4 linked regions of the Homo sapiens genome follow. The protein of the gene in region 3 purifies or fractionates together with the protein of the main gene of each other region. This does not show direct contact. Each region holds a gene or a part of one and is shown on either strand. Other genes may lie near its edges.

What was found.
Region 1: the proteins of ANXA8 (region 3) and ECHDC3 fractionate together in Homo sapiens (co-fractionation; one large-scale study listed by BioGRID). This does not show direct contact.
Region 2: the proteins of ANXA8 (region 3) and NAMPT fractionate together in Homo sapiens (co-fractionation; one large-scale study listed by BioGRID). This does not show direct contact.
Region 4: the proteins of ANXA8 (region 3) and MMAB fractionate together in Homo sapiens (co-fractionation; one large-scale study listed by BioGRID). This does not show direct contact.

The regions. Positions count from the first base shown.
Region 1 is NC_000010.11:11,761,976-11,764,570, reverse strand, and holds the end of ECHDC3 (enoyl-CoA hydratase domain-containing protein 3, mitochondrial precursor), read right to left. Parts: intron 1,348-2,595; coding exon 1,027-1,347; 3' UTR 501-1,026; downstream 1-500. UniProt on the Homo sapiens protein: May play a role in fatty acid biosynthesis and insulin sensitivity.
Region 2 is NC_000007.14:106,269,034-106,277,437, forward strand, and holds part of NAMPT (nicotinamide phosphoribosyltransferase precursor), read right to left. Parts: intron 8,147-8,404; coding exon 7,990-8,146; intron 6,017-7,989; coding exon 5,913-6,016; intron 3,626-5,912; coding exon 3,497-3,625; intron 280-3,496; coding exon 121-279; intron 1-120.
Region 3 is NC_000010.11:47,464,782-47,472,997, forward strand, and holds the end of ANXA8 (annexin A8), read right to left. Parts: coding exon of another isoform or gene 8,181-8,216; exon of another isoform or gene 7,418-8,180; intron 7,411-7,417; coding exon 7,352-7,410; intron 6,604-7,351; coding exon 6,481-6,603; intron 4,126-6,480; coding exon 4,066-4,125; 3' UTR 3,212-4,065; downstream 1-3,211. UniProt on the Homo sapiens protein: This protein is an anticoagulant protein that acts as an indirect inhibitor of the thromboplastin-specific complex, which is involved in the blood coagulation cascade.
Region 4 is NC_000012.12:109,562,291-109,568,201, forward strand, and holds part of MMAB (corrinoid adenosyltransferase MMAB precursor), read right to left. Parts: intron 5,287-5,911; exon of another isoform or gene 5,064-5,286; intron 4,878-5,063; exon of another isoform or gene 4,738-4,877; coding exon of another isoform or gene 4,721-4,737; intron 2,887-4,720; coding exon 2,829-2,886; intron 1-2,828. UniProt on the Homo sapiens protein: Converts cob(I)alamin to adenosylcobalamin (adenosylcob(III)alamin), a coenzyme for methylmalonyl-CoA mutase, therefore participates in the final step of the vitamin B12 conversion.

The sequences.
Region 1 (2,595 bases), about 36 Mb from region 3:
CGCCCCAGAGCTAGAGTGCAGTGGCACCATCTCGGCTCACTGCAACCTCCGCCTCTGAGTTCAAGCGATTCTCCTGCCTCAGCCTCCCAAGTAGCTGGGATTACAGGCACACGCCACTGCACCTGGCTAATTTTTGTATTTTTAGTAGGGACGGGTTTCACCATGTTGGTCAGGCTGGTCTTGAACTCCTGACCTCAGGTAATCCACCTGCCTCGGCCTCCCAGAGTGCTGGGATTATAGGCGGGAGCCAGCGCCCAGCCGGGAGGAGGTGCTCTTAATGCGTAGGATGTGTGCACCCCACCTCCTCTCCCCAGTGTTTTCATCCTCAGGTTGAGCCTGGGGTCCGGGTTTCACAAAAACGTGGATAACAAGGGCATTTGTTATAGAAATAGGAGGCACCTACTCTATGCCATCAGCGTGAGCATACAAAAACAGTTAATTGATTTTTTTTTCTTTTCTTAGACAGCTTGCAGTGTAGCTGGGGAGATAAAACATACCAGTCTCTATAAAGATTTAATTTATTTAAATCACATAAGATTATTCAAAGCCATAGGCATGATTAAGTCTCTATAGAATCAAGAAGATTTTCTGTGTGGAGAATATCTCGTGGAGATTTGAAATGTGTCGCCTCTCCTGAGCAGCCAGGATTAACTCTGCTTAGGACGTTTCAGATAAGGGTCAGGCTGGCGTCCTTCTTTCTGCCTCCATGGGTTGCCACCTTTTGCTATGTCGGGGGGTCGCTTGCTTAAGACGTTGCAAGGAGCACCCCAAATGCCAGGCTTCCCACCATAGCTGGCCCGCTGCAGGGTTCACCAGCCTTGCACTGAGGTCAGCACCTCAGTCACTCTCCATTTTGTCCTTTCCCCATGAAATTGTGGCTTTTAATGTAGGCCAAATGCTATGACACCAATATCAAGTCACGAAAGCAGCCTGTCACCTGTTGAAGCTGAGAGGCAGTGGTGGCTGGGCCAGAGGGGAAGGTGGGCTCCTGGGCGCTGCCCGTGGGCCTCACTCCTCTGCCTCCACTCACACTGGCTCGTGTGACCAGACAGGTTTTCTCTTCTGGAGGAAGGCCGTGATGCCCTCCTGCCCGTCCCGCAGGGCCAGGTTGTCCACCATGGCCTGGGAGGTGAGGTAGTAAGCCGTCCCCAGGTCCTGGGGCAGCTGCTTGTAGAAGGTGGCTTTGCCCAGGGACACCACCGGACGGCTCAGCGATGCGATCTTCCTAGCGATCCGCATGGTCTCCTCCTGCAGCTCCGCCTCTGGCACCACCTTGCTAAGCAGCCCGTGGAGCAGGGCCTCCTGGGCAGAAATGGGCTCACCAGTAAAGAGCATCTCCAAGGCCACCTACGGGGAGACACGGGATGTCACTGAGGTGCTCTCCTGTGACCCGCCCCCGCCACCTGAGTCCCGCCTCGGCTCAATGACCTGCTTCCTCAAATACCACGTCATCCGCCAGCCCTGACGTCTTCAGTGCCCTAACTCCTGCCCGGGAGGAGAGCGGATCTTTCCAAGAGCGAAGAAACCACACCAGGCCCAGGGGAGCAGTGGCTGTCCCGTGTTCTCTTGCTCCTGCAAAGATCTGGTCACTGAGCCCTGCCACGGCTGGGGATTTCGTCTACCTCTTTTGAGGGCCAAGCACAGGACGGCAGCCACATCAGATGGGATGCCCCACAGACACTGCAGTATGGGGGTGGGGTGGCGGGGAGTGGGGGTTCCAGTACCTCTCAGAACCCACTGGGGCCACCTCCCACAATAAGCAGTCACGGGGCTGTCACCTTGGCCTGACTGGAAAGAGCAGACCCAGCCTCCCGGAGAGGCAAGGATTTACAGACAATGTCTTTGGGGACCAGACGTAGAGCCCAGCATGGTTTTAACTCACCAATCGGTAAGATGTGGCAAGGAAAGGATGCCCTCTCCCCTCCTACTACCCTCCCCTGAGGTTCCAGGGCTGGTGAAGAGCGGGGGAGCCCAGCTCCCTCCCTCCTCACCGTGTCCTCTGCTTCACAACCACTGCGTGCTGCACCAACCAATTCTGTTGCACGCTACCAAGCCTGGCTCCTCTAAAGTCAAACTTAAAATGGAAAAGAGGGGTCCCCAGGTGCACAAGGACACACAGGCAGGGGCCCTTCCCTTCCCCACCCGTCACTCAGGCTCTCACAATCCTGGTGGCATCCCTGATGTTCCTCAAATACGCCCATGCACCGTCACCTCAGGGTCCTCGGACTCGCTGGTCCCTCTGCCTGGGGTGACTTTTCCCTGGGTGTCATCCTGGCACACGCCCTCATTGCAGGCCTCTGGTCCTGCATCCCCTATCACTGAGGTCTTCCATGGCCGCCCTGCTCCAAGTGTAAAACGAACCCTGATGCGACTCCCGTCTGGCTACATTTTAAATCTTTTGCACTTCTCTCCATTTAACACCCTATATATTTCACGTTTGTTTATAGTGTATGTCCTTTGTAGCATGTAAACTCCAGTAGGACAGGATTTTTTTTTTTTTTTCCAAGATGGGGTCTCACTATATTACGCAGGCTGGTCTTGAACTCCTGGGCACAAGTGACCCCACGGCCTTGGCCTCTTAAAGTGCTAGGATTA
Region 2 (8,404 bases), on a different chromosome or scaffold from region 3:
TGGTTGAATCTTTGGAATTTTAGAACCAAGATCAATCTCAATAACGTCCCCAAAAGTTTACAGTGGTACTCTAACCAACAATCCACATTATATTAAATGAGGTTGGTTTCAGTTACTTACCTCTTGGGAAGAGACTCCTCTGTAGCCAAAATCATGTAACTTGTATTCCAGACCATCTAAGTTACCAGAAGTTTCTAACAAATATTTGGCCAATATTTTCTTCTGCTCTCTAGAATTTGTGGCCACTGTGATTGGATACCAGGACTGAACAAGAATAGTCTGTAGTAACAAAATTAACCACAAATATTAAGACATAAAATACTGCATTCTTTCTGAGGAAAATCCTAGCTTTTTTTTTTTTTTGGAGGTATGTCCTGAACTTCCATACTATTAACTAGACACAGAACTGCGCAGCAGGATGCCTGCTGTGTGCATTCCAGATATAGTACATAGCTCAGCTCTCAAATCAGCAACAAAGAAGATAAGCACACCAGGTCCACATAGCAGAGAACTTCACATTATCAAGTTTCTATCCAAAGCTTCAAAGAAGCAAATAATATTTTGAAAGACTATGTGATAAAAGGATCAATTTTTAGAAAGTTTCATGATCTGTCATGGATCAATAGTTTATAAAGGACACTGAAACTTGGATGTTGAGGCAATGTCAAATTGCCCCAAGTTTCTAAATGCTTACTCTTCATTTCTGTACTTAATGTGGACTTGGATCAAATAGGGCATGAACCAGCATTGGTCCGTGGACTGCATTTTGACTAGTATTGGTTTAAAGAAGTTGTTCGTTTACTCCTCGAGGTAGTCTCAGATCTAATTTTCTCTTGGATTAATATGACAACTAATACTTGAAGCACTTTAGCTTACTACTAGAGAATTCTATCTACTGAGTTATGCTTTATGTACTTAGCTTTTATCAAATATATAAGTATTTGATAAAATACTCACGTAAGTTACAGGAAACACTTCCGCATATGTTGTATAATCAAGGTCACTGTCTACTTTGTAATTCAGTGACTATTAAGTTCCCAATGAGAAAATGAAAGAATTGCTGGGTTCCTACTTTCTGATAAGAACAGTTCCTTGATTTCCCCTTTTTTCTTGGTTGTCAGGAAGCTCCACAGAAAAGTCTGTCTAATCACAGCAACCGTAATAATTATCATGGCTTAGAAATTCACTTCTTCATTCTAAGATCATAATTTTCTATTTTCATTTTATAAACCAGATTGTTATTTGAAGCAGCTTCAAATCTGTTTGAAAAAGAGCTGCTAAGATGATGCAATGTCTGTGCTGAACCAAAAAGATATTAACTAAATTTTACAAAGCAAGCTTTTACTGAATACCAGCTAAGTGATATATAAATAAAACAAATAAAAAGATTAACCTTGAACTTGCCAATCTAGTCATCTTTTTAAAAAACTACTTTGTAGCATTAGACTCCTGTGACTGATTAAATATGGCCTTTGCAGCTCTTCTCATCAAGAGATGGAATCTCCTTTCTTATCCCTTGAGTCTGTGCTGTCCTTATGATTCGCTTTTGACGAACAGAATGTGGAGAAAGTCATGTGTGACTCCCAAGCCCCAGTTTCAAGAGGTTTTGCAGCTTCTACTCTCATTCTCTTAGAACCCCAAGACTACCATGCTCTGAAGAAACCTCTTCTGGAGTGAGACCCGGTAGTCCCAGCTATCTGACCTGAGGCCCCAGACATGGGAATGAGGCCATTAAAGGATGTCCAGCCCTGGCTGAACCCTCAGCTAAATGCAGATGCCTAAGTCTAAGCAAGAGCAGCAGACGACCATCCAGTCAACCACAGAATCAGGAGAAATAATAGTTGCTTTAAGCCATTAAGTTTTGGGGTAGTTTGTTACACAATAGAAAATCAGTACAATTCTTAAACTCTATAACCAATCACCTCCAACATCTGACCATTCTGCTTCTGAAATTACTCTTTCAATTCCACTGCCAATGCCCATGATTATCCTACCTCTCTTCTTTAGTCTAATTATTCTTCATATTGCCAGTGGTTACCATTCTAAAACAAGTTTTTTTTCTTTTTTTCCAGGTTGCATCTTTCCTTAAAAGCCATTAACGGTCATCTACTGTCCATGGGGCGGAGGTGGAGCTGATTCATACAGAATTTGAGAATCTTGCCTTGCTTACCATCTAAAGGTTTATCTTATACATTTTTCACTTTTATGCTGCAGTCCCCATAGGACTATCTGTCATTCTAAGAACACTGTGCCATTTCTTCAGCTCTTCCTTCTCCTTATTAAAAGCTTATTTATTTTCCATTTCATGATTCCTTTAGACAGAATTACCTATTTCCTGCTACCAACTCAGCACTAATTCTTAATGATATTAGTGGTTAGTTCAGAATGAATTGCCAACTCTCACTCAAAGGCCCTTTAAGTAAAACATCTTACTCTAACTTCTGTGCCCAGCATTTTTTGGGTACATAGCTGGTACTTAATCAATATGTTATTTCAGTCCTAAATATTAATTTAGTTTTAGTATACGGTATAGACTATTTAAAACCTTTATTTAACTGTACCTTTTTTTTGAGTGTATTATTAGTTAATGGCCCATAAAAAGTCTATTAATTTCCTGTCAACTTAGCAAAATGTGTTTCAAACACCCTCTTGGACCTCTTATATTTCGATGTTTTCCAATTTTTATAAGTGAGCCTCAAATGTACTATTTTACAATATAATAGCAAATTACTTTAACCGATAAACTAATTAGTCAGTTCTAAGAACTAAGTAAATGCCACCAGATAGTAAGGTGTTATTTCTATAGTAACTTTCGAGGGTATTTCCTCTCACGGATTAAATCTATTATTAAACTGTTCAGAAGCTAGGTAGAGTATTATTATCAAAACTCTGACCATGTGAAAACATATGACTACTTAGGTATACATACAAGAAAAACAAAAAAAAGGCTCGCAGTATAAACCCAAAGCCCAAAATGTACCCTTCCTGAGAAATTAAACAATATGAACAGCAGATCTTGTTTTATTTAGATGAGAAACTGAAAAGTAACAGATGGTAGATCCTAAGACCTAAACTGATGAGAGAAAAATGAAGAAAGTAGTTACTAGAAGTTGGAATAAAGTTCCTTTAGTCTAACTTGAACATTTATCATTCATCGAATGTCGTAAGTTACTAGAAATGTGCTGTTTTTCTAAGTTTGCTCTAAAATAATACACACTTAAAATGGCAATGAATTAGATGAAAGCCAACTAGGTTTTAAAAACAATCACTCTCAATAATTTGATTTAAACAAAATCTCAGAACATTCTATTCTACTAGAAGAAACCTTAAAGATTATTTAGTCTGTCATTTTATAGATGAGGAAATTGAAGCCTGGAAAGGTTAAGTAAATTATAGGAGATTATATAGCTTTATTAGTAACAAATTCTAAACTGTAATCTCAGTTCAATGGTCTTTATTCAATTAATGTTAAATAAGAATTAAAAAAACAATTTACCTCAATCCAATTTGTAAGCCAGTAACACTCTGGATCTGTGTTTTCCACCGTGAAGAGAACATTTCCTCTGGGAATGACAAAGCCCTCAGGAACAGCTTTTATTTCTATTGGAAGATGCCCATCATACTTCTGGCAGGATAAAATGATAAATTTATTTATTCAACAGATGATACTCAATTCCCTGCTGTTTTACTAAAGGTTCTTTACGTTTTATAGAAGCTAAATTTACTGTCATAGAAATTGCAATTGTAGATGTTACTGTAATCTAGTCAGAATATCCTTATCCTTCTAAAATAAAACTAGTTAAAATTATTAACATACGTACTGATATTAATTTTTAAGTTTAATGCTGCCACGTGCTTCTGCTAAGAACATTTATCACTACAAGTGGCAGAAAATTCCAAACTCATCAAAACCAAACTGTTGCTTCTTCCCTGCTTTTTCAGAAAATGAGAAAGGATGACTTTATTCCAACATATTCTAAAAGTATTCCAAGAACACTACCTTTATTCTAAATTCGTTATTTTCACAAAATAAAGGCTGCAGATTGAAAGATAAAGGATTGCTATTAAAGAACAAAAGAAAACAAAACGAGAGAGAAGGAGAGCTAGGGAAATCCCTGCAGAAGAACCGAAATAGGTTCCCTCTATTCTGGTCGTGGACCTGAAACTATGAGACAGGCCAAACACAGAATCTTGGCAATTAACACTCGAGTATGACTTAACTGACTTCCTCTTAATGTAATAATTGCCTCCAAAATTAGGCTGAAGGTTATTTGTTATGTGACACTGTACCTCCCTTTTAAAGCTAAGAGCTGTGCCTAACTTTTCACTAGGAAGGCAAGCTGTTTCAGAAATCCTGATAATTTATTTATGTGATTTGGGACAAGGTAATTAAATACAAGAAAAATCTGTTTAATACAAGCACTGGAGGCACAGTGTATAGCAAAAAGAACATTGCCCTACAGGTCCTAGTTTGGACTCAAAAGCAGCGGGGAGACCCTGGACTAGTCACTTGCCATCTCTCGGTCTCAGATTCTGTTTGTAAAATGGGGTTAGACCAGATTATCTCTAGAGAACCTTTAGTTCCCCAAGATTTTCTGATCATATAATCAAACGACTTATTGCCCTGGCCACTGGACAGTATAGTAATAAGCATAGTACCTAACTTATTACTGTATTTATCCTTACAACAAACCTCACAGAAGAGAAATGGAGCAAGTACAGGTGATAGCTCACAGATTCTATTGACCTTATTTAAGATACAGGAAAAGTGCAGCACAGAGTACTTACCTGACTTTTTCAAGACCCATAAGTACCAAATAGTATAGCTCAGTATTGTCATATAGGCATGAAAGTTAAAGTATTTCTAATTATTCTGTGTTTGACAGTCTTTTCAATGTAAGAAACTTTCGTTTGTGAGACTTAAAAGTAACACTCAACATCAAGATACGCCAACAGATTCCATTCCCAACTGATCATTGTAATAAAAGGAAACCACCACGGGATATTTAACTCTTATAATTCTATTACCATGTCTTTGAGTGCCTTAATATTTAGGCAATGAATTCAAACATACTAGATATAAATATAATACAATCAAGACTAAAAATCAACTTTGTGGATCAGCACCAAGCCATTCTCACTATACAGTGAGAAACTTCCCAGAATTATGTGTAGTGATAGACTCACAGCATCTATTTTCAGTCAAGAAAACAGACCTACATTTTGAAATTGCCAAATAACCATGCCCTTTCCTACCTATAGTGTATTTTCAAGAATGAATTATCTTTCTCAAAAATGTTATTTAAGTTATAATTCATTTTTATTAATTACTTAGACTTGCTGTAGATTCTATATGCTAATGATTTAACATGGGGGATGCGGGGAGAGGGATAAAATGTCAACCTTAACTTTTCAAAAGGATATATTGGCTATAATATAACTTTTCAAAAGGATATATAATGGCTATGAAATAGCCATTATATTCAGATCACAAACAAAAAAGAACTGTAATGATACTCTAATCTCTTATTCAAATTCTGGCCGGGGATGGTGGCTCACACCTGTAATCCCAGCACTTTGGGAGGCCAAGGTGGGCAGATCACTTGAAGTCAGGAGTTTGAGACCAGCCTGGCCAACACAGTAAAACCCCATCTCTACTAAAAATACAAAAATTAGCCAGGTGTGGTGGTGCGTGCCTGTAGTCCCAGCTACTAAGGAGGCTAAGGCAGGAGAATAGCTTGAACCTAGGAAGCAGAGGTTGCAGTGAGCCGAGATTGTGCCACTGCACTCCAGCCTGGGTGACAGAGTGACACTTTCTCTCAAAAAACACAAAACAAAAACAAATTCCTTTGCAAGAAGTTTTGAACTGAAAGAAAAACCAAAACAGATCAAAAGATGAAACCATCTTTTACCTCAAGAATGTAGTTCCATCCCTTTTCATTAAAGACATCATCTTGGAAATGTTCTTTGTAGACATCTTTGGCTTCCTGGATTTTCTCTTTGGTTACTACTTTACCTAGAAGAATATACATGTCCTGTTTACATTTCTAAAGGTGCATTCTGTGAGTTGCTGAACTGTCACAGACTTAATATCTTTGGCTATTTCACCCATTCTATGGATTAAAAATATAACTAAGAGGTTAAATGCTCACCCAGAGTCAACAGCAGAGTCAGAAAAGGAATTTGTACTTTTAATAACTCAAAGTATAAATGTTTATTTATTGTAAAAGCAGATGTGTAATAGAAAAAATTATTACTTGCACAGCTTTTAAAAATGATATTAACTTAATTTTTTTCTCTCGATTAATTTTGGTACTTTTCAACTTTGAGATGACTCAAAAGCTTCTTACATCCAAATGAAACGTCTCACTTCGTTCGTAAAGAATGTGGCATCTTTAGGGTTGGTAAGTCAGTAATTTCCACAATTACTAAATGTCTGCCCCCCAAACAACACACTTTTAATTAACTTTTCTTATCCGTAAATGAGGATAAAAGTCGAGTACCCACTTATATGATGTTTGTGAGGACAAAATGAGTTAAGACATACGAACCACTTACAATAATGCTGGCCTAGAATAGGTAATCAATACATTTTAGTTATAATTAAAAATGAGTAATATTTTACAAAGTTCTTAAGTTGTATGACTAAATTAAAGTGTGCTATCAGTTGCTGGTAACTTAATACAAGATAACTAGTAAACTCGTTTAAAGTATCTTGGGGCCAGGCGTGGTGGCTCATGTCTGTAATCCCAGCATTTTGGGAGGCCAAGGCGGGCGGGTCGCTTGAGAGCTCAAAAGTTTGAGACCAGCCTGGTCAACATGGTGAGACCCTGTCACTATAAAAAAGTAGCCAGGCATGGTGGTGCGAGCCTGTGGTCCCAGTTACTTGAGAGGCTGAGCAGGAAGGATCTCTGGAGCCTGGGAGGCAGAGGTTGCAGTGAGCCAAGATTGCACCACTGCACTCCAGCCTGGGTGACTGAGTGAGACCCTGTCTAAAAACAAAACAAAACAAAAAAACTTTGGTATTAACTTTGGTATTCTTGCCACTAATAATTACTTCTGATATCTAGCTAGGTTTTCAGTAGTATAAGACTATCTGAACTGCCTAATCTTAAAAGAGTCAAGATTATAGAAAAGAGTTATTGGCCTAAAATTCACCTTACTGTTTTCAATTCTGAAATTGTTTAATTCAAAAGGTTAGAGATAAACTTTTCCAACATGTATAATGTGTTTGGGAACTGTTTTCCCCCTAGAAATGGCCTTTCAAATAAGAAAGCACAGAAATTGGGGGATTTTTGTTTTAATATGCATTTGCAACTAAGTCCAGAGACACAGGTAGTTTTTAAAAATAGGTCTTCAAGGTAAAACTGGCTAATATAAAAATATTCTGATTGCTACCATAATTCAAAAGGAGTTTCCAGTTCATTAACAACTCCTTTACTTTGAATTAATGACTAAAGTATAACAAACAAGATTAGCCTCCAAAAATTAATGACTTTTCTAAACTTATTTCAAAACTTTTAGTTCGGCCAGGAGTGGTGGCTCACGCCTGTAATCACAGCACTTTGGTGGGCCGAGACAGGTGGATCACCTGAGGTCGAGAGTTCAAGACCAGCCTGACCAACATGGAGAAAGCCCGTCTTCACTAAAAACACAAAATTAGTTGGGTGTGGTGGTGCATGCCTGTAATCCCATCTACTCGGGAGGCAGAGGCAGGAGAATTGCCTGAAACCAGGAGGCGGAGGTTGCGCTGAGTTGAGATCATGCCATTGCACTCCAGCCTGGCCAACAAGAGCGAAACTCGGTTTCCAAAAAAAAAAAAAAACCTTTTATTTCAGAAAACTTTTCTCATACTTAGAACATCAAACACACACCAAATTATATGATTTAATGCATCCAAATTAACAGATTTGTTAAAAATTCTAAAAGAACTCCTAAAGGAGTTAAGAGTAATAAGCAGTGTTTAAAATATACTAGGAAAAGTAATACCTTTTAAGTACTTATTAAGAATGTACTGCAACCCATAAAATACTGTTTCCTCATATTTCACCTTCCTTAATTTGGAGTTTTCTGTCTTCTTTTCACGGCATTCAAAGTAGGAATAAACTTTGCTTGTGTTGGGTGGATATTGTTTATAGTGAGTAACCTATGTAAAGAAATACACTTCTGTTAGAAAACACCGATGAGTAGACTATAAATCACAACAGAAAAGGCTTGAAGTTATTTCAAAACCAGAGAAACTATATTTCTTGTTTGCTATTAACCAGTTTCTTTTCCTGGCTATACCAAATAAAAAATAAGTATCTAAGATATTTTCAGAGTTCAGTATCTTAAAACCACAGGAGAGCGTTAAATTTTACATACAAGCACACTAAATCTACTACAAGGCCTCTAGGTTGGAAAA
Region 3 (8,216 bases):
CCTGTCCCACATTTCTCTGCTGGCAGGGAGGCAGTGGGGGTGATGTCCATTCTGCCCCATCAGGGGAGATGATCAACTTCATGACTCTGCTTAAGCAGATCCCCTTGCTGGGCATGTACTTGGACTTGACCAAATTTCCTTGGCTGCAGCTCTTCTCAAGGCTCCTGTTTGGCCACATGAGGCCTGTTTTGGGGTGGGCTGCAAAAGAACCCATCGAACCAGTGGTCAGGGGAGCTTGCAGGGCAGAGAGATCCTCTAAGTCCTTCCTTCCTTCCTTTCTTTCTTTTTTCTTTTTCTTTTTTTTTTTTGACAGAGTCTCGCTCTATCACCCAGGCTGGAGTGCAGTGGCACTATCTCTGCTCACTGCAATCTCTGCCTCCCGGGTTCACGCCATTCTCCTGGCTCAGCCTCCTGAGTAAGCTGGGACTGCAGGGGCCCGCCACCATGCCCAGCTAATTTTTTTGTATTTTTTAGTAGAGACAGGGTTTCACCGTGTTAGCCAGGATGGCCTCGATCTCCTGACCTCGTGATCTGCCCACCTCGTTCTCCCAAAGTGCTGGGATTACAGACTGAGCCACCACGCCTGGCCCCTCTAAATCCTTTCTAAAGAGTTTTGGCAGAAAGCAGCTAGGCAATGGCTCAGAACTGAAAGCAAGTCTGCACACAGAGCAGGACTTGAACTGAAAGAAAGGAATAAGAATTCTCACCCAGGGCTGGGATCCAAGAGACGCACACTGATACAACTACTAAAAGGTTGTTAAACTCCCGAAGGGCCCCTGCCTTGCTGTGTTACAGTCTGATTGTGTATTGTTGAAGCCCTTACCCCCAGTTTGCTGGTGTTTGGAGATGAGCCTTTGGAAGCTAATTAGGGTTAGATGAGGTTATGAGGGCGGGGCCCTCATGATGGTATAGTGATCTTATGAAAAGAGCAGGAGAGAGAGAGAGAGCTCTTCCCCCCGTGAACACGTGTAAGCACAGAGGAAAGGTCATGGGAGGACGTGTCAAAAAGGCAGCCGTCCGCAAGCCAGGAAGAGGCCCTCCCCAGGAACTGAATTGATCTTAGACTTCCCAGCCTCCAGAACTGTGCAAAATAAGTGTCTGTTATTTAAGCCACCTATTTATGGTATTTTGTATGTCAGTCTGAAAAGACTAAGACATGTTGGTGAATAGCTGCTGCACCCCCAACACCCAGGAGCCTCCCCTGGGGCCCCACAGACACCCTGCCATCCAGCACTAAGGGTTGAGGCCTGGCCCTGCAGGGGCCGCTACTCGAGCTCTGCTCCACCCCTGCAGACAGCAGCCATTCAGGTGAGTGGGTTGTGCTGCACCAGTTGTTAAATATTCTGAGCACCACTTGTGGTGGATTTAAAAACAGTCCCCAGATTCGTTGACACTCTTCTCATTGACAGATTGGGTCTGTGTCCCCTTTCCTTGAAGCTGGGGTGGCTTGTGGTGTCTTCAACTGATAGGGCACCGGGGAAGTGATGCCATGTGACTCCTGACGCTAACTCACAGAAGGCAATGTGGTGTCCTTCTTGTCCACTGGGAGACGGTGGAGCCCTACCACTTGCTACCCTGAGGCCACCATGCTGGAGAAGCTACGTGTAGGAGTGCAGGGGACAGTCCCAGTTGAGCCTGGCCTTCCAGCCATCTCACCAGGGGCCCAACATGTGAGTGAAGAGGCATCCAGATGGTTGCACCCCTCTGCCCTAGAGTCACCCAACCTTCAGGTCTTCCCAACTGAGACTGAGTCCCCTTACTTGTTGGGTCAGAGACAAGCACCTTGCTGTGCCCTCCAGAACTGCTGACCCACAGAATCTGTGAACATTATACATGAGGATTTTATGCTACTGGCTCTGGGGTGGTTCGAAAGGCAGCAGTTGTAACTGGGAGCCCACCCTGTATAGAAATGTGAGGAAACTGAGGCTCAGAGAGTAAGTGACTCAGTCACTGATATAGTTTGGATATCCCCTCCAAATTTCATGTTGAAATGTGATCCCCAGTGTTGGAGGTGGGGCCTGGTGGGAGGTGTTTAGGTCAGGGGGCGGATCCCTCATCGCCTGATGCTGTCCTCACCATCTTGAGCTCTAACAGGATCTGGCTGTTTAAAAGTGTGTGGCACCTCCCCCCACCTCTCTTGCTCCCACTCTCGCTACGTGATGTTGGCTCCCCCTTCACCTTCTGCCATGACTGTAAGGTCCCTCCAGAGGCCTCCCCAGAAGCTGAGCAGATGCCGGCACCATGCTTCCTATATAGCCTGCAGGACTGTGAGCCAATTAAACCCCCTTTTTAAATAAATTACCCAGACTCAGGTATTGCTTTATGGCAACACAAGAATAGCCTAACACAGTCAAAGTCATGGAGCTGGTGCAGGGCAGAGCCAGAATCTGCCTCCCGTCCAAGTGAATTCAGAGCCCACGCTATTCCCATCTCCCTGATCAGGCTGGTTCCTGGGCACACGCTTACCCCTCAGGGCCACTTGAGGGGAAGTTTGCAAACTGGAGCATGTTCAGGGGTGATGGCCCCAAACAGGCTCCAGGAGGGACCACTGAAGGGACTGGGGACACTGGGCTTTGACAGAGGTCATCGCAGAATTTGTGGGCCTTCTTCAGATATCCAAAATGTTGTTACTGGGAGGGAATAAGTGTTGTGGCCCTAGATGGCAGAGGTGTGGGCTTGATGCGGCTGATTTTGGTTCAGGTAAAGCAAGAACTTTGCTGGTCACATCCATTGGAAAAAGATTGGGCTGTCAAAGGACGCAGTGAGTCCCATCTTTGGAGGCAGCCAAGTGCACCCGGAGTACTCAACTGCACCCTGAGTATCGCCAGTACACCCTGAGTACCCAAGTGCACCCCAAGCACACCAAGGACCACCCCTGGGTGGATGCCAAGGGGGTAGTCAGGCCACAGGTTGGAACAGCACCAGCTGACTTTAAATCCCTCTCTAACCCTGAGATACAAGGATGTAGCCTACACATCAGGAGGTGAATAGAATCTACCCTCATTTGCAAGAGTTGTCCCCAGGGCAGCGGTGGCTGCAGCCCATCCAGTGTTCCCACTGGGAGATGCCCATGAGGTGCTCAGGTACAGCCCATCCAGTGTTCCCACTGGGAGATGCCCACGAGGCGCTCAGGCTTCGTGGCTCCCCAAAGCTCTGTTTCTGACAAATTAAATTGGTCCTACACTGGTCCCTGCTAAACATCCAAAGATACTTTGAGTTGAATACAAATCTTTATTATTTTGAAAACCACAGCAAAGGCACTTCAGAATCTCCAGGTACCCAGTCTCAGTTGCCGTTCAGTGGGGACAAGAGTGGTGCTGAGGGCATGGTCACACCCTTCTGTGCTGCATGCAGAGGGGTGCAAGGCCAGGGCAGCTGACCTGGTCAGCCACCAGGGGAGCCCACGCCTCTTATAACACAGTGTCCTTGGGTCAGGAATTTGTAGTTTATTTTGTTATTAAGATGGCGAGAGAATTTTTCGTCCATTTAGAGCCTAACATTTTTAGATGAATGTTAATGGCATCTCGGTTGGGATGGATTCGTGTTCGTTTCTCAGCTGCTGAAGGATGTGTGTTCTAAAACAAAAGGGCTCCCAGCCAGCTCTCCGGCTGCATGATAGAGAAGTGTTTTGTAAGACGCTTGTTAAAAACCCATATTCCCTGGCCCCTCTTGTGGAGACCCTGTTTCAGTAGATGGGAATGGGGCTGGGGTCTGTATAACCTGTGCCCAGGAGACTCTGTGACCAGCTTGGGAAGCTCCTGCAGGGAGGAAGGAATGATCCACAAGTCCCCAAGCCCTTCATGCTGAGGCATCTGTCTGGCTGGAGAAACACTAAGGTTGGCATTGTGCTCACACTGGGAAATGACCTGGAGGAAGTTGGGAAGAGGAGTCCAGGCCGGTTCCACCCTCTGGGTCAGAAACCCGGCTGGAAAGCACTGGAAATAGGGAAATAGAAGACCGAAAGGCTGGGACCCCCCTCACACCCAACCTGCGTCCATGGCCGAGGTTGAGTGAGGAGTCCTGGAGACTCTGGCTTCATGGTCTTTGCTCTTGTTCTTCTGTGCCTCAGGGGTCGCTGCCCACCAGGCTCAGCAGGGCGTTCTTGTAGTCACCGCTGGTGTCTTCCTGTGGGCAGGAGGCGCATAAGCGTGAGAAGGGGTTTGCTTGTGCCTGGCTCGGCAGTGGCGGCTGTGTTATTATGACTAAGAGGTGTGCCCCTGGCCTGCACCTGGCCCGGCCCTCCAGGGTTCCTAGCCGCAGGGGTTGTGCCATCACCCCTCTTTCCTTGTTTTTAATTTCAGGCTATTCCTTTACATTTCCTTTTGATTCTCTTACCAACTACATGCAGGATTGATGTGGAAAATGAATCAGAGACAGTTCCACTCCTAAACAAGGAAGGGGTCAGCTGTCCCAGGGTTCTTCTATTCGGGAGCCAGGGTGCCCAGCCATTCATTTACACAACAGGATGCATCATTATTCAACACCTGCTGTGGCAGCTTGGGAATCAAGGCTGAGAGTGAGGCATCAGCACACACCTGGGGGCAGGGCCGGGGGTGGAGGGAGCCTGGACCATCGCACCCTGACGGTGTGGCCGAGGCAAGCCCCTTCACCTCTGTGGGACTCATCTATGAAATGAGATCAATGCTGTGCTGCTGTGCATCTTGCTGAGACGTGGTGAGGGTACAGCAGGAGGAAGGCGAGCTGGTCTGCCCTGCATCTGGCTCACATCGGGTCCACAGTGTTTGTCTCCTGATGAGACTGACCTTGTGGTCCGATGACTGAGGAGCCCTGTTTCTTAGATAGTGGTAGGTCCTGATGGGACTGGCTAGTCCGGGGTCTGCATACAGAGCTGGGAAATGGGCCAGGTCAGATCACCCAGATTCTTCTTCATGCAGTTGAGGACAGCGGGGCCAAGAGAGGGGAGTGAATTCATTCACAACGGCATGGTGAGTAAGGGGTAGACTGGGGCTAGACCCACTTTCCACACTCTGGACCAGTTTAGGTCTCATGGTTATTGTCTACTTTTCACCATTTAGTAAAATTTGCCTGTTTTGAGCCTGAAATCTCATTACGGGTTTCAAACTACAATGAAATTTTTTTTAACTTTTTCCTTTCTAGACACGATCTCACTCTGTCACCCAGGCTGGAGTGCAGTGATGCAGTCCTAGCTCACGGCAGCCTTGGACTCCTGGGCTCAAGCGATCCTCCCGCGTTGGCCTCCCAAAGCACTGGGATTACGGGTGTGGGCCACTACGCCTGGTGATTTTTATTATTTTGAGGACAATTTTTCGAATAGTTTTTAGAAAGAAAAGCATTAATTTTGTTTACTTTTTCAAATACATGAGTTATACTTGGAGTGTTTATACATTTGCCTCTTAATTTCAATGCAGGAGTTTTTAACTCATATTAGTGTTGAAAACCATTTTTGCTTTAATGACATCTGTGGTCTACACTAAAAAGAAACGTTTGGTCAATGTATTCATGATTCTAACTCAATTTTCTTAAGTAACAACATTAGATAAAATTTGAAGAGGGTGGCTTCATGTATCTGTAGAAATCTCTCTGATGCCGTAAGTTACCATGTGTGGTTAAAAGGGTTAATGACAATCAGCTCAGACTGTCTGCAGGTGACAGCACAGTCCAGGCTGGTGTGTGCCTTGCCCTCCTGTCTCCCGACAAGATTGGCTGGGGAGCCTCAAGTGAAACCAAGAATAATTCCAATCCTCTCTTGCCCCTGCCCACCTGTTTCAAGATGTTGCCATCTTGAAACATCTGGAAACAGAAATGTCTTTTCCACCTATTGTCAGCTATGTGTTTCTTGAAAAGTGCACTTAACAACGACATTTGCAGAAGAGCTAGAGACTTGACTTAGTAGCCAAAGAAAACTTGGGGATACATTTGTCCTAATGTGACTTCTGCTAATGAAATCATCAAGACCTCAATTTGCAGACACCCCCAGAAGAGCTGTTTCTCCCAATTATCGCAGCGTGATAATCAGTCTGTGTTTTGAAGGCTCCAGAACTTTTGCTAATTGGAATCTGGTTAGATAGTCTATTGGCGCTCATCTGACTTATCTCCTTAGAAGTTGGCCGCCAGGACTACTTAAATCTGGATTTGAGCGGTGGGCCCGATTCCTACCGGACTAGTTCATCTCATTGACTTTTCAGAGGTGGCTTCTTCTGCAAGGATTTGGTGTCTTTTCCAAGGAGCAACCATAACTTAAATGTGAAACCAACTTTCTGAGTGGGACACAGGGGAGCCTCTGTGCCCTGGTCTCTGCATCTCCCCTCTGCCCCCCATTCCCCTTGGGATCCAGCCACACTGACCTCTGCTGTTCCCTGCACACACCACATGGTCATGAATGCAAGCACATGGTGCCCACTGGGAAGGGAGGGGCTCACGTAGTGTTGGCCACAGCCTCCAGGTTTCCCTGAATGTCTGGGTTTCAGGCTGGCCTCAGCATTGGGAATGCCTGCTTACCATGATCATGCTGCTGAGGGTCTTGCCGTACATCTTCTTGAAGTGACATTTGATAAGATTTAAGTCAATCTCGCTCCTTGAAACGATGTTTCTTATCAGGGTCCCATCACGCGTCCCTGCTCCCTGGGCAAGACAGCAGCCATCAACAATCCTGCCTCACCTTTCCTGTCCATCTCTGAGTGATGGACGGATCTGTGTGGTTGGGTTCTGGGGCTTTTAGAGGGAGGGAGATGTGGGAAGGAGCCTGTGCTTCAGCCAGGGAAGCATTAGGAGGGAAGCTTTGGTGGCTTAGGGTGTCCACTCCCTTAATTCCTTCTCACCCACTGCCCAGAACTCTTCCTTTATGATGCCAAGTGCTCCAAACTGCAGTATGTTTGGTTTGCCACATCAGATTCTAGACACAAAATACTCACTGCTCCAGGAACAAGACTTCCTACTAGAGCAATGGCAGCAATCAGCTCAGCCAGGAATTTCACAGGCAGGGCCTTCCTGCTCACCTTCATCCCTGACCAGTCTCATGTCAGCTGGGGCCACATGGCCAAGGGAATCGCATGCCCTCTCTCATTTCCTGGGCAGAAGTGGCCAGAGGGCTTGGGTTTCGGGTGTGGAACTAACTTCAGGGGATATCAGCAACCATCAATCAGAGAAAACGGGCAATGGTTTTAGTTTCAGGGAATTATTCACCTCTGGAGATGCAGCGTCCCTTTCCCAGACTCAATTTCACCTCCGAGAACTAAAACCTTTCTGATCCACGACAGGTTTGGGTAAGATAACTCCCCCGTGTGGAGGATCGTGGTGGCTTTGAGCTCCTTGGCTTTGCACTTGGTGCTATGTAGGGTGAGCGTCAGGAAGAAGAAGACAGGACAGTTACCTTCATGGCATAGTAGAGTCTCTCTGCAAAGTAGCTGTGGAGGTTTTGGGTGCATTTCACTGGCAAACAAGAAAGCTGTGTTAATGTCTGGAGCTGGTAGGTGGCACTGCCTACAACTTTATGTCTTGCCTTAGGTCTTAAGAGTCAGTGTTGTGCAAGGCTTGGCATATTTCTTTGTTCCGTGCCTTTCCCAATGTGAGAGGCTTTGTGTCAGGTGGCGTGGGACAGGGAAGGTAGCCCGGGGCACTGGGCACAGCTCCAAAGGCCCAAGCAGGCAGGCAAAAGGGTAAGATGTGAAATGCACCAGACTGTGGGGCTCGTCTGAAGACACCAGCTCAAGCCCATCCAAGGGCAGCTCAGACTCAGGACAGGCCCTGGGCTCTCAACCCAGAGACACCTCCACCAAAAATCCAGCCTCTCAGCTCCACAGAAGCACCATGGGATGGTGGCTGCTGGCCTCAGAGTGCCCTCTCTCTCACACTTATCAGCAGGAACCCTGCATTTTGAATTCCCATGTGACAAGTGGAGTTTGGCCCCACAGGACTAAGGCACCTGGGGGCGTCTGGTCCAGAGACTGGGCCCATGCTTGCTCCCATGGGTACTGCTCAGAGACTTGGCATCTGGGTGGGGAAGGTTGGCATTTTCACTTAGGGCTGCAGAAGGAGCATGGGCTTTGAGTGAGGTAGGCATGTGTTCACTTCCTGCCTTGATGGTGCAGTATGGCTTCATTACTCAACCTCCCTGACTCATCTGGGAAGTGAGACTGATGCGAGGCTTCAAGGTGAAGTGAATAGGAAGGCCCAGCATGACGGAGCACTGCATGGCTTCACTATTCCCTGCTGGCAGACTTCATTCTTGGTGGGTT
Region 4 (5,911 bases), on a different chromosome or scaffold from region 3:
GTGCAGATTAAACTTCTTTTCTTTATAAATTATCCGGTCTCAGGTAGTTCTTTATAGCAGTGCGAGAACAGACTAATACAGGCTATCAGACCTTGAACTGGCTGACATTTGAAAGCAAACTCTGAACTTTCAGCACAACATCTTCGTTGGACACCCAGCCCTGCTGAGGGGGACCTGGTGTGGCTCTTTTGCAGTCTGAGGGAGGAAAAGGCTCCCATGGGGGCAGCAGCTGGGTTAAGCAGATGACACGCATCACACACCCAGGGACAGTCAAGAGGAACCGTCTGGGCTCTGTCCACGTCTCCTGTGCACCTAGGCCCTGTGAGGTTTTCTTCTTTTCTCAACATTTGACAGCTTTGGTTTTCTAACCTGTAACAGTTGGGCCAAGAGGTCAAATGTGACAGTGCTTTCTAAACTCTAAAGGACAAGGAGCTTGGAGAATGTAGTCAGCCGAGGCGTGTGGGGATTCTGGGAGCAGGAAGCCTGGCTGGGTGAGGCCTGTGCTCTGTCCAGGTGGGGAGTGGGTTTGCTTGGAACAGAAGTGGTCTGTTAAGGTCTGCTGCAGGACTCCAGGCCCCTGCATGACAAATGTCCAACAGCTCTCATGCATGTGAAGACCACAAGTACCACCTCTGACTTTGTGCCCAGCCAGGGTCCACTCAAGCTGGATGGTGGGCTACCAGGAGGGTGAAGGTCTGCGACTTCTGACCTCTCCTAAGATGGCCACTGTGACAGCATTCAAGAAGCAGGCCATGGTGTGTGAGAGCAGAGGCTGCCCATCCAGCACTGGGCTGGAACCTTCCCAGGGCTTCTGACCAGCAGACCTTGGGCAAGCTGCTTCCCTGCTTGGGGTCTCTGCACTTTCACAGTCAAAGCGGGAGTGATAATACTACCCACTTGGTTGGCCACGTGCAGCGTGTACCCCAAGGGCTGGGGAGAAATGGCACCAGTTTGGGAATCAGATTCCAGCTCTACTGATGCCTGGCTGTGGGGGCTGGGCAAGTCAGCCTTTCTGAGGCTCAGTTTGGCTCCCTATAAGCTGTGGACATTAACTTCCACCTCACGGGTGTCTGTGAGGGTGAAATGGGTGATATGAGGAAAGCAGTGGCATTGCTGCCCGGCCTCATCCACAGGCCCTGCGAGCGGCTACCAGGCCAGGCGGGGCTCCCAGGTGAACCAGACACTGTCCCCGCCCTCACAGTGCCAAGGCTGGGTGGGAGGTGGATGGGTGAACAGGTTAACACCCCTTGTGATGCCTGTGGTTAGAGGATGTGGAAATCCAGGAGCAGTGCCTAACCCAGCTGGAGATTAGGTGGCCAGGGAAGGCCCTTGAGGAGGTGACGTGACAGCTGCGACCCAACGCGTACAGCAGACAGAAATGACCGCTGCTACCGCGGCTCCTCAGGAGGTTGAAAGCCTTCCTCCACCACACAGAATGTTCTGGCAGCTGAGGCTTCCTCCTGCAGCCACAGCCTGTGGCAGCCCCACCTACTACCCTCCGTCTGTTCCCAGGGGCCTGAGCAGGCTCCAGCCTGGGCTTCAGAACGGAAGTGGGAAGGGCTGACCCTGCGGGGAGCGGTTTCTGGGGACCTGGGTCCATGTGGAGGTGGAAAGTGCGGCACCCTGGGCATTCTGGGGTGGTGACCCTGTCTCCGTGCTTGAAGTTCTCTGCGTGGGTCAGAGGCCCCCTCCTTCTTAGGGAACAGAACAGTGACACTGTGACGCATGAGTCCCACGGGCTGAGGGCTCACTGCAGCTAGGCTTCCCAGGTTCCCTCTGCATCGGGCATGAGCGAGGCACTTCACACCGGCTTTCTCAGCCTCGGTGCTATTGCCATTCAAGGCCGGGTCATTCTTCGTTGACGGGGGCTGTCCCCTGCATTGCAGGATATTTACATGCCAGCAACACCCCCAACACCCAGATGTGGCAACCAAAAATGTCTCCAGATATTGCTCAGCGGGCCCTGAGGGGCAGAATGGCCCTGGGTTGAGAACCGTTGCATTTTAAATTCCCTCATTTAGTACAATCCTCCCCACTCGCCTGTGAAGGAAGATTATATGTCTCCAGTTGTTTGTTTTGGAGACAGAGGTTTTTTTTTTTTTTTTTTTTTAAAGACAGGATCCCACTCTGTTGCCCAGGCTACAGTGCAGTGGTGTAATCACATCTCACTGCAGCCTCAACCTGTAAGACTCAAGCGATTCTCCCACCTCAGCCTTGTAAGTTGCTGGGACTATGGGTGCATGCCACCATACTTGGCTAATTTTTAATTTTTTTTTTTTTTTGTAGAGACAGGGTCTCCCTAAGTTGCCCAGGCTGGTCTTGAACTCCTGGCTTGAAGTGATGCTCCCACCTTGGCCGCCCAAAGTGCTGGGATTACAGGCTTAATTGAACCATGGTGCTCGGCCTGAGACAGGGTCTCAATCTCTTGCCCAGGCAGGAGTGCAGTGGCATGATCACAGCTCACTGCAGCCTTGACCTCCTGGGCTCAAGAGATCCTCCTACCTCAGTTTCCTGAGTAGCTAAGGCTACAGGCATTCACCACTATGCCTGGCTAATTTTCAAATATTTTGTAGAGTCAGGGTCTTATTATGTTACCTAGGCTCCTGGCCTCAAGTGATCTTCCTGCCTCAGTCTCCCAAGTAGCTGAGATTGCAGGTGTGAGCCACCATACCTGGCCTGTCCGCATTTTACAGATGAAGAAATGGAGCTCACAGAGGGAGAGTAACTAGCCCCAGGTGACACAAAGAGTAACTGGTGGCTGGATGCTGAGTCCCGTGATGGCCACCGGGGCTGAAGATTCCCAGCTTGGGTGAGATGGTGTTACTCACTTTCTGAAGCTCTTCGGCAAATGTATGGCCCTTTTCTGTGACTAATTCCAGAGCAAACCTATGAAGAAAAAGGAAAAAGAATTTGCCTGTAATGTAATGTCCCTAGGCCCTGTCTTGCCATAAACAATAGATTCTCAGGTGGCAGGCCATTTAGTTAATTTAGCTATAATAGCCATGTTATTTTTCTTGCTAACAATAAGAACATTATAGCCTTCCATTTGGGGGCGGTGGTATTTGTTTCTTGAAATGCCTTTTCGGATGCTCATTATTTCCAGTCAAGAATTCCTTTTGAACAGCTACTCTGGCCAGGCCCAGGAGAGTCAGTGGTGAACAGAAGCTGACCCAGGCTCTCTCCAGCAAGTTGGTGACAGGGTGAGCAGTGACAGTCTCAAGTGCTGGATCCTGAGCTCTGACCCGCAGCCCTGTGGTGATAGGTGAGTGGGAACCAGACAGACCCAGGTGCAAATTCTGCACCGCTGCTGAGTGTCTCTGGGACTTCAGGCAAAGCTTACACCTTCATGTTCAGGAGCGTGATATTCAGGAGTGTGATAGGTAATCAGATTAGACATACTCCTGAATGTGAAGGTGCAAACTGAGATCAGTGCTCTGAAGGAAAGAGCAATAGAAGCCTAATCTGACCTTGGCTAGAGAGGCAGGGAGGGCTTCCTGGAGGAGGTGATGCTGGAGGGGAGACTTTGAAGGCTGGGGAGGACTTCCCTCATAAGGCAGAGAAAGCAAACTGCCCCCCGACACAGGTCAGGACCCTGGCTCTGCCTCCCTCAGAACCCTGCACTTCCCTCCTGCACCAGTCAGTGCCCCAGCAGGAGACAGTGGCGCGCTGCAGGGATTCCTGGAGGAGGGCTTTGGGAAGGGACAATTCACAGAGGTATGGGCAGAGTTTCAGGGAAATGCAGGAGCCTGAAGGGCAAGGGTCGGGGAAGGTACAACTCACCCTGGAGGGAGCTGAATTCTGGAGTCACTCAGCAGGGAGGGAGTTAGGTAGGGAGCCCAGCTGCCACCAGAGCCATGCACCACTGGGGAACAGGGTCACACACACTCATGAGCTCTCTGCACTCACTCTCCTATCACCTACTGGTGCCTCCCACTGGCTGGACCCACCTGAATGCCAGAAGACCAACGAATCGAGGTGGCACAGCCACCAGGTGATAAGGTCAGCCTCCCATGCATAAAGAGAAGGTGAAGAGAAGGGATTTGAAAGGGCCAATGGAGAATATCCAGCCCATCTTCCTGGCACATCTTACAGTTAGAACTAAACACACCAGTATGTGATTCCCGTCTGGTGTGTCTTCCCCTCTGGACCAAAGGGAGGGCTGTGCAGGCTGGGACACAGTCTGTCTCCATCATAGCGGATGCCCCATGCCTGCCTCACAGGAGGTGTGCAGAAGTACCTGCTTGCCGAGGGATGCCCCGTGACCAGGCCAGTGGCAGGCCCCACCCTGGGCACTTGCCCCAAGCCTGCTCCCACCCTCGTAGCTGCCCAGTGAGTGCTGCCTGCTCCCTGCACTCTGCAGCTCAGGAAGGTGGGGCTGAGGTTCTGCTCCCTGCACTCTGCAGCTCAGGAAGGCGGGGCTGAGGTTCTCTGTTGAGCAGCGCCTCGCACTGCAGATGCTTGGTCAATATCTGACCAAGGAAGAATCCACAACTGAGGTTTCTCCAACCTCCCGCTCCTCCTCAACTGAGAGACGATGGCTCGTGTTTTAGAGCTCATTAGAATAGCTGATGCGAGAACTGGCCTTTTCTCCCTTTGCCCACTTGGTCTTGTGTCTGCCCTCTTCTGGACCCCCTCCCACACACACCAAGGGGTTTGTTTGCCTTCTCTACCCGGCTGGCTGACTATCTGTACCTCCCATTATCTGTCCCGAAAATCTCACCTAGTCAGGCCCGCCATGGAGAAATGGTAGCCAGGAACAGGTAAGTGTTAAGAATAGTAATAATGAGGAGACTCGCTTGAACCCGGGAGGCAGAGGTTGCAGTGAGCCGAGATCACACCATTGCACTCCAGTCTGGGCAACAAGCGCGAAACTCCGTCTCGGAAAAAAAAAAAAAAGAAGAGTGATAATAGCTAACATTATTTTTACTTGTGCTAGGCACTGTCCTCAGGGTGAAACATGGAATCATCTCATTTAAGCCCCACAAGAACAGTGAGATGGGAATTATCATGATGACTACTTGACAGAACCGTAAACTGAGGCTCACAGAGGCCACGTGATTTACCTGACGTCCCAGAGACAATCAGCAGCGGTGCTGAAAATTTGCAGCTGGGTCTGTCTGGCTCCCATGCACCTATAACCCCAGGGCCCCGGGGTCAGATTTCAGGATCCAGCACCTGAGACTGTTGCTGCTCCCCCTGTCACCAGCCTGTAGGGCATGCTGGGCAGACTGTGCTCCTGCTTGCAAATATTTGCTGCCCCTCCTACCCCGCTGATGTCAGGCATGTGCACGTGACAGGCTCTGGCCGCTGAAATGTGAATAAATGGAAGGCATCATTCCCAAGAAAGGTTTGTCTTTTGGAGACAGAGTCGTACTCTGTCACCCAGACTGGAGTGCAGTGGTGCGATCATGGCTCACTGCAGCCTCAACCTCCCAGACTCAAGTGATCCTCCTGCCTCAGCTTTCTGAGTAGCTGGGACTACAGGTGTGCACCACCACGCCTGGCTAATTTTTTAACTTTTCTTTTTAGTAGAGATGAAGTCTTGCTATGTTGCTCAGGCTGGTCTCAAACTCCTGAGCTCAAGTGATTCTCCCACCTCGGCCTCCCAAAGCGCTGGGATTAGACATGTGAGCCGCTGCACCTAGTCATTTTTTTTTCAACTTTTATTTACCAACAAAGTTTAGTCTCCATAAAGACTGTCAAAAACTGCCAATGTTGACTATATTTCAAGTCATCATGGTGGGGTAGTGGGAAAAGTTTTCAATCAGCAATAATCACATCTTGGGTAAACCTCACTGGCGACAACACTGACACTGCACAATCCCCTGGCAGCGTCAGGAGCCAATGTGAGCTTCACCATGACCTCTTTTCCCTCTGCCACAATGACTGATAATTGCCCCAGGCAGCAGCT